Linked DNA regions of Homo sapiens: region 2 is linked to region 1. Evidence: fine-mapped expression QTL. A gene starts in region 1. The other region holds a variant in brackets. All regions are shown on one strand. Distances are from middle to middle.

Region 1 (2,500 bases):
AGCCAACCTTCTAGTCACCACCACCAGGTCAGGAAGTGTAGCGCCCCGTGATCTATTTGCAGGGTTGCCATTGTATATGTAAAACCCGTATTCTCTGTACCAAGTCAAGTTGTTCAGTAGGAATGTTAAAGATTTTTATACTTTTCTTTAAAAAACGTATTTTCCTTTATAACTTTTTAAAAATAACATTTTAACCCAGGTCCCCCGCATGCCCTGCACTCGCATGCCAAAGGCTGGTCCCTGGGTCTCAGACAACCATAGTCCAGCGGGGTCACTGACCTGCCCCAGTCATCAGCCCATGGTGGGTCAGAGCAGCGTCGTTCTCAAGTGGGGACAGACCCGTGTTTACAAGATTCTCAACGCCTGGCTGATGTAACAGCGGCATCAGCCTTCCTTGGGGAGAATGACGACTGTATTTGTTTTTACCCTCTTGTTAAAAATGCTGATTTAATTTTCAAGCTTCTTTTCCTTCTTTCCTTTCTTTTTTCCTCCCCCTCTCCCTCCTTCTTCTTCGTTTATTTTTAGAGCCAGGGTCTCACTCTGTCGCCCAGGCTGGAGTGCAGTGGCCTGACCATGGCTCGTTGCAGCCTCGACCTCCCGGGCTCAAGCCATCCTCCTACTTCAGCCTCCTGAGTAGCTGGGACTACAGACGAGCGCCACTATGCCTGGCTGATTTTTTAAAAGTTTTTGTAGAGACAGTCTAACTATGTTGCCCAGTCTGGTCTCGAACTCCTGGGCTCAAAAGATCCTGCCACCAACACCTAAGTGTTGGGATTGCGGATGTGAGTCTCCGCGCCAGGTTTCTTCTCTTTTCTTGTGCGTTTCACGCAAAAAAACCCGAGTCCCTGAAGCTACGCTGCTTTCCTGCCTCTAGGGAAAACGGGAGTTTTTTCTGCTCGTTTGCTCTCTCTCTTTTTTGTTTGCTTATTTGTTTTTAGTATTTTTAGCATGTTTTGGAAACATTTCGTTCCAATGAGTGTTTGAAAAGCAGCTCCCCCGCCCCACGCTCCGGGCGGGCGCCTCCCACTCCCTGACCCCGGGGAGGGTGGGCACCACTCCCAGACGCGGGGGACGCGTGGGTGTCGCTCGGGGGCGCTCGCCTCCCCCACCCAGCCTGTCCCGGGCCGCGAGCGCTTCCAGTCGGGTTACTTCTGGGGGACAAGAAAGGCACCGTCTGAACGGTCGAGACGCTTTTTCCCGCTACGGTTTTCCCCGGAGCTGACAGGGGCAGCAAGGTCGGAGTTGATCCGAGGGTCCCTGCCTGGTCCCGGGGGGACGGTCAGCCTCCCGCCCGGAGCCGCGGGGAGAGGAAGCAGGTCGGGGTCTCCGGGACGCGCAGACACCCAGACACCGGCGGCCTCCTCCCACCAGGCTGGCAGTCGCTGAGCCCTGGCGCCTCCTTAAAGCCGCAGCTCCGCCCCGACCGCCCCGCCCGCCAGTCCGTCCTCAGACCCTCCCAACCGCCGGGTCCCCGCCGCCTCGGCGGAGTGTTGTAGAGCCTCGAGCCTGCGAGGAGCGCGCCGCCCGCCAGCTCCCTGCGTCCCGTCCCGCGTCCCCGCGTTCCCGCGTCCTGCGATCCGCCGCCATGGCCAGTGAGGAGCTGGCGTGCAAGCTGGAGCGCCGGCTGCGGCGCGAGGAGGCCGAGGAGAGTGGCCCCCAGCTGGCTCCCCTCGGCGCCCCAGCCCCGGAGCCCAAGCCCGAGCCCGAGCCTCCCGCCCGTGCGCCCACGGCCAGCGCCGACGCGGAGCTGAGCGCCCAGCTGAGCCGGCGGCTGGACATCAACGAGGGCGCTGCGCGGCCCCGGCGCTGCAGGGTCTTCAACCCCTACACGGAGTTCCCGGAGTTCAGCCGCCGCCTCATCAAGGACCTGGAGAGCATGTTCAAACTGTGAGCTCCCGCTGCGCGCCCTTCGCCCCCGGGACCAGGGAGGGAGCGGGAGGGCTTTCTGGTCCGAAGTCCCGGGCCCTGTTTGTGTGGGGAGGGGTCCCGGGGTGCAGGTAGCATTTGGCCCAACGCAGCCAGATCTTGCGTGCTCGGGTCTATCTCGGCGCGGTGGGGGACGGGGCCGAAGAGGGGGGACACCAGGAGCAGGAGCTCTCCGGGACGGAGCCCAAAAGTTCTCGGCGGCTGCCGGGCCCGAGTTCCAGGTCCCCCAACCCCGACCACTGGTCCCGCCCCCTCCGCCCGCCAGTCCGGAGATTTGCTCCGAAAGCAACTTCTAGGAAAGGGAGCCGTCGCCGCGCCTCACCTGCCAGCTTTCACTGTATCCCCCCAAGGGAAAAATTAGCCCCTGTTGGCCTTTTATCTTTTAAAACAAAAGGGGAAAGTTAATCCTTGGCTGCAGCGCGGGGTCTGATGAATGAGCGGAGGCCGAGAACGGGGAGTTTGGTAAAGTCGTTGTAAGAGATTCAGGACTTTCCTGGAGCAGGCGCGGCCCGGGAGCCTCCTGGGGGCGCGGGGAGGGGGGGCGGTTGTGGGAACCGAACTTGGCCGCTGGCAC
Region 2 (2,500 bases), 22 kb after region 1:
TCGCACCACTGCACTCCAGCCTGGGCGACAGAGCGAGACTCCATCTCAAAAAAAAAAAAAAAAGAAAAGAAAGAAGTTGGAATTCCTTCAATATTTCCTAAGCTTGCCAAGGTCTTTTCTGACATATTTGACCTTTTTTGTTAGGCCTGGAGAACGTTGCAGGCTTTGGGGCCTGAAAGGAAGGTTTCCCAAGTCTTCTAGACTCCTCTCAGTTCGAACCCCAGAGGTAAAAGGATGACTTTTCTTTTCTTTCTTTCTTTTTTTTTTTTTTTTTTTTTTGAGACAGAGTCTCACTCTGTCACCCAGGGTGGAGTGCAGTGGCACAATCTTGGCTCACTGCTACCTCCACCTTCTGGGTTCAAGCAATTCTCCTGCCTCAGCCTCCTGAGTAGCTGGGATTACAGGTGTGGGTATCCGCCACCCCACCAGGCTAGTTTTTTGTATTTTTAGTAGAGACAGGGTTTCGCCATGTTGGCCAGGCTGGTCTTGAGCTCCTGACCTCAGTTGACCCTCCCATCTCAGCCTCCCAAAGTGCTGGGATTACAGGCGTGAGCCACCGTGCCCTGCCAGAGGATGGCTTTTCTCATCCCCCTCCCTGTGTTGGGGAGAGCCTCTTGTCCCTCACATGTGACAGCCCCTCTGTGTCTGCGGGAGGCTGCGCTAGCTCCGGCTTATGTGGGCTGGGAAGCCGTCTCCCTGGTGCTTCCTCTCCCAGCTGAGGACAGATTCCTGCCTATTCCCTGACCTTTACTTATCCTCCCATCTGCCTAGTCAGTTTGTCTCCTGTTCCTGGGCGCTGCTGTCTCCTTACACCCAGGCTTTTCAGTTCCTCCCTTACTCGCTTCACTCTCCTTCCTTTCTGCTCACTCTTTGTTCATGTCCCAAATGATTGGCGTGTCATATGCACCACATTGATCACTTCAGCCTGTTCTGCGAATTCTGTTGGAACACGCTATGTGTGCTGGGCAGTGAGCGGTGGGCAGAAGACATTTATCCAGACTCTTGGCACTGAAGGCACCTTAGTGGTCATGTTTTTCTTTTTTAAGAGATAGATCTCACTGTGTTGCCCAGGCTGGACTTGACCTGCTGGGCTCAAGCAGTCCTCCTGCCTCAGCCTCTGGAGTAGCTAGGATTACAGGTTCAAGCCACTGTACCTGCCCTTAGTGGTCATTTAACTGGGCCACCCCTTCTAAGGCTGACTTGACCAGAGAAGTGCTTCTCAGAGGGTTTCCTTGAAAAACCGCATTGCCAAGGTACGTCTTCTCAACAGAAAATCCCCAAATGCAGAGGACTGTGTGGTCAGATGAGTCTGTGTGCTCTGTTTCCCTCTTGTAAGTTTTGGACACATACGGAAGGCTCTGGAAAGTTCCACACTGAACCTGTT[A/T]ACTTTGACTGGGACTCCGTGTAACAGAGACTGTCCCTCCCAGCCGGTTTGTGCAAGCTCTCTTTACTTCTCAGGTCTAGTTCCAGTTGGCCGTTTTGCCAGAAGGCACTTCCTTGCACTTAGCTAAAGTCTGTCTCACCCATTTCCATGCACAGAGCCCAGTTCTGGCAGCCTTTGGGCCCCTGGGCAACATCTGAAGGCAGCTCTTTGCCAGATCCCACTTGTTCCTTCCACCCCTGTCCTGTCCTTGTGTGGGGTCTTTTTTTTTTTTTTTTTTTTTTGAGTCGGAATCTTGCTCTGTCACCCAGGCTGGAGTGCAGTGGCACGACCTCGGCTTACTGCAAGCTCCGCCTCCTGGGTTCACGCCATTCTCCTGCCTCAGCTTCCCGAGTAGCTGGGACTACAGGCGCCTGCCACCATGCCCGGCTCTTTTTTTGTATTTTTAGTAGAGATGGGGTTTCACTGTGTTAGCCAGGATGGTCTTGATCTCCTGACCGCGTGATCCACCCACCTCGGCCTCCCAAAGTGCTGGGATTACAGGCGTGAGCCACCGTGCCCGGCCTGTGTGGGGTCTTAAGTCCATTCGTCTTCTTGGCTGCTTCCCACTGACCAGGCCCATGGCCTCCCTGAAGTGTGAGGTCTGTGTGGAGTGGGGCAGACCATGATGAGGTGGGTAGGACTGTGGCCCTTGCATTCAGGATTCAGGACTTTTTGTACTTGCCACTATGATTTATTTCGCCCATGAGTTTTCTGGCAGCCTCCCTGACTCACTGTAGGGTCCCAGTCCCCTGAAGGTGTGGTCACAGTTGCAAGTGAGCGCCATTTCTCTCAAAACCTGTGCTGGGAAAGTCAGTCTGTGGGGGTCTTAGTTTTAGGACCTTGCTTTTTTTTTTTTTTTTTAATTGTTTTGGGACAGAGTCTCACTCTGTCACCCAGGCTGGAGTGCAGTTGTATGAGCACAGCTCATTGCAGCCTCGACCTCCCAGGCTTGAAATGATCCCCCTGCCTCAGCCTTCTGAGGAGCTGGAACCACAGGCACATGCCACTATGCCTTGCTAATTTTTTTATATTTTTGAAGAGACAGGGTCTCACTATGTTGCCCAGGCTTGTCTTGAA

Alleles and levels. Alleles are on the strand shown, and positions count from the first base shown. SD is a standard deviation of normalised expression in the study named.
For the expression in liver of the gene that starts at base 1,485 in region 1, allele A in region 2 goes with a lower level than allele T (moderate effect, 0.69 SD a copy in GTEx).

What was found.
Region 2: its variant is fine-mapped to the expression of EFHD1 in liver (GTEx, PIP above 0.99). The same link has a PIP of 0.9 or more in aorta and testis.

Annotation. Positions count from the first base shown.
Region 1 is chr2:232,632,120-232,634,619 of GRCh38, forward strand. It overlaps EFHD1 (EF-hand domain family member D1), which reads left to right and starts at 1,485. Exons shown (of 4, transcript NM_025202.4): 1 at 1,485-1,887. The coding sequence starts at 1,586. RefSeq lists silencers at 1,523-1,582, 1,660-1,954.
Region 2 is chr2:232,654,160-232,656,659 of GRCh38, forward strand. The region is part of intron 1 of EFHD1 (EF-hand domain family member D1); the gene reads left to right. Among named protein-coding and RNA genes, the nearest start is that of EFHD1, 22 kb to the left of the region's middle. The variant A/T (reference allele first, on the strand shown) is at 1,385.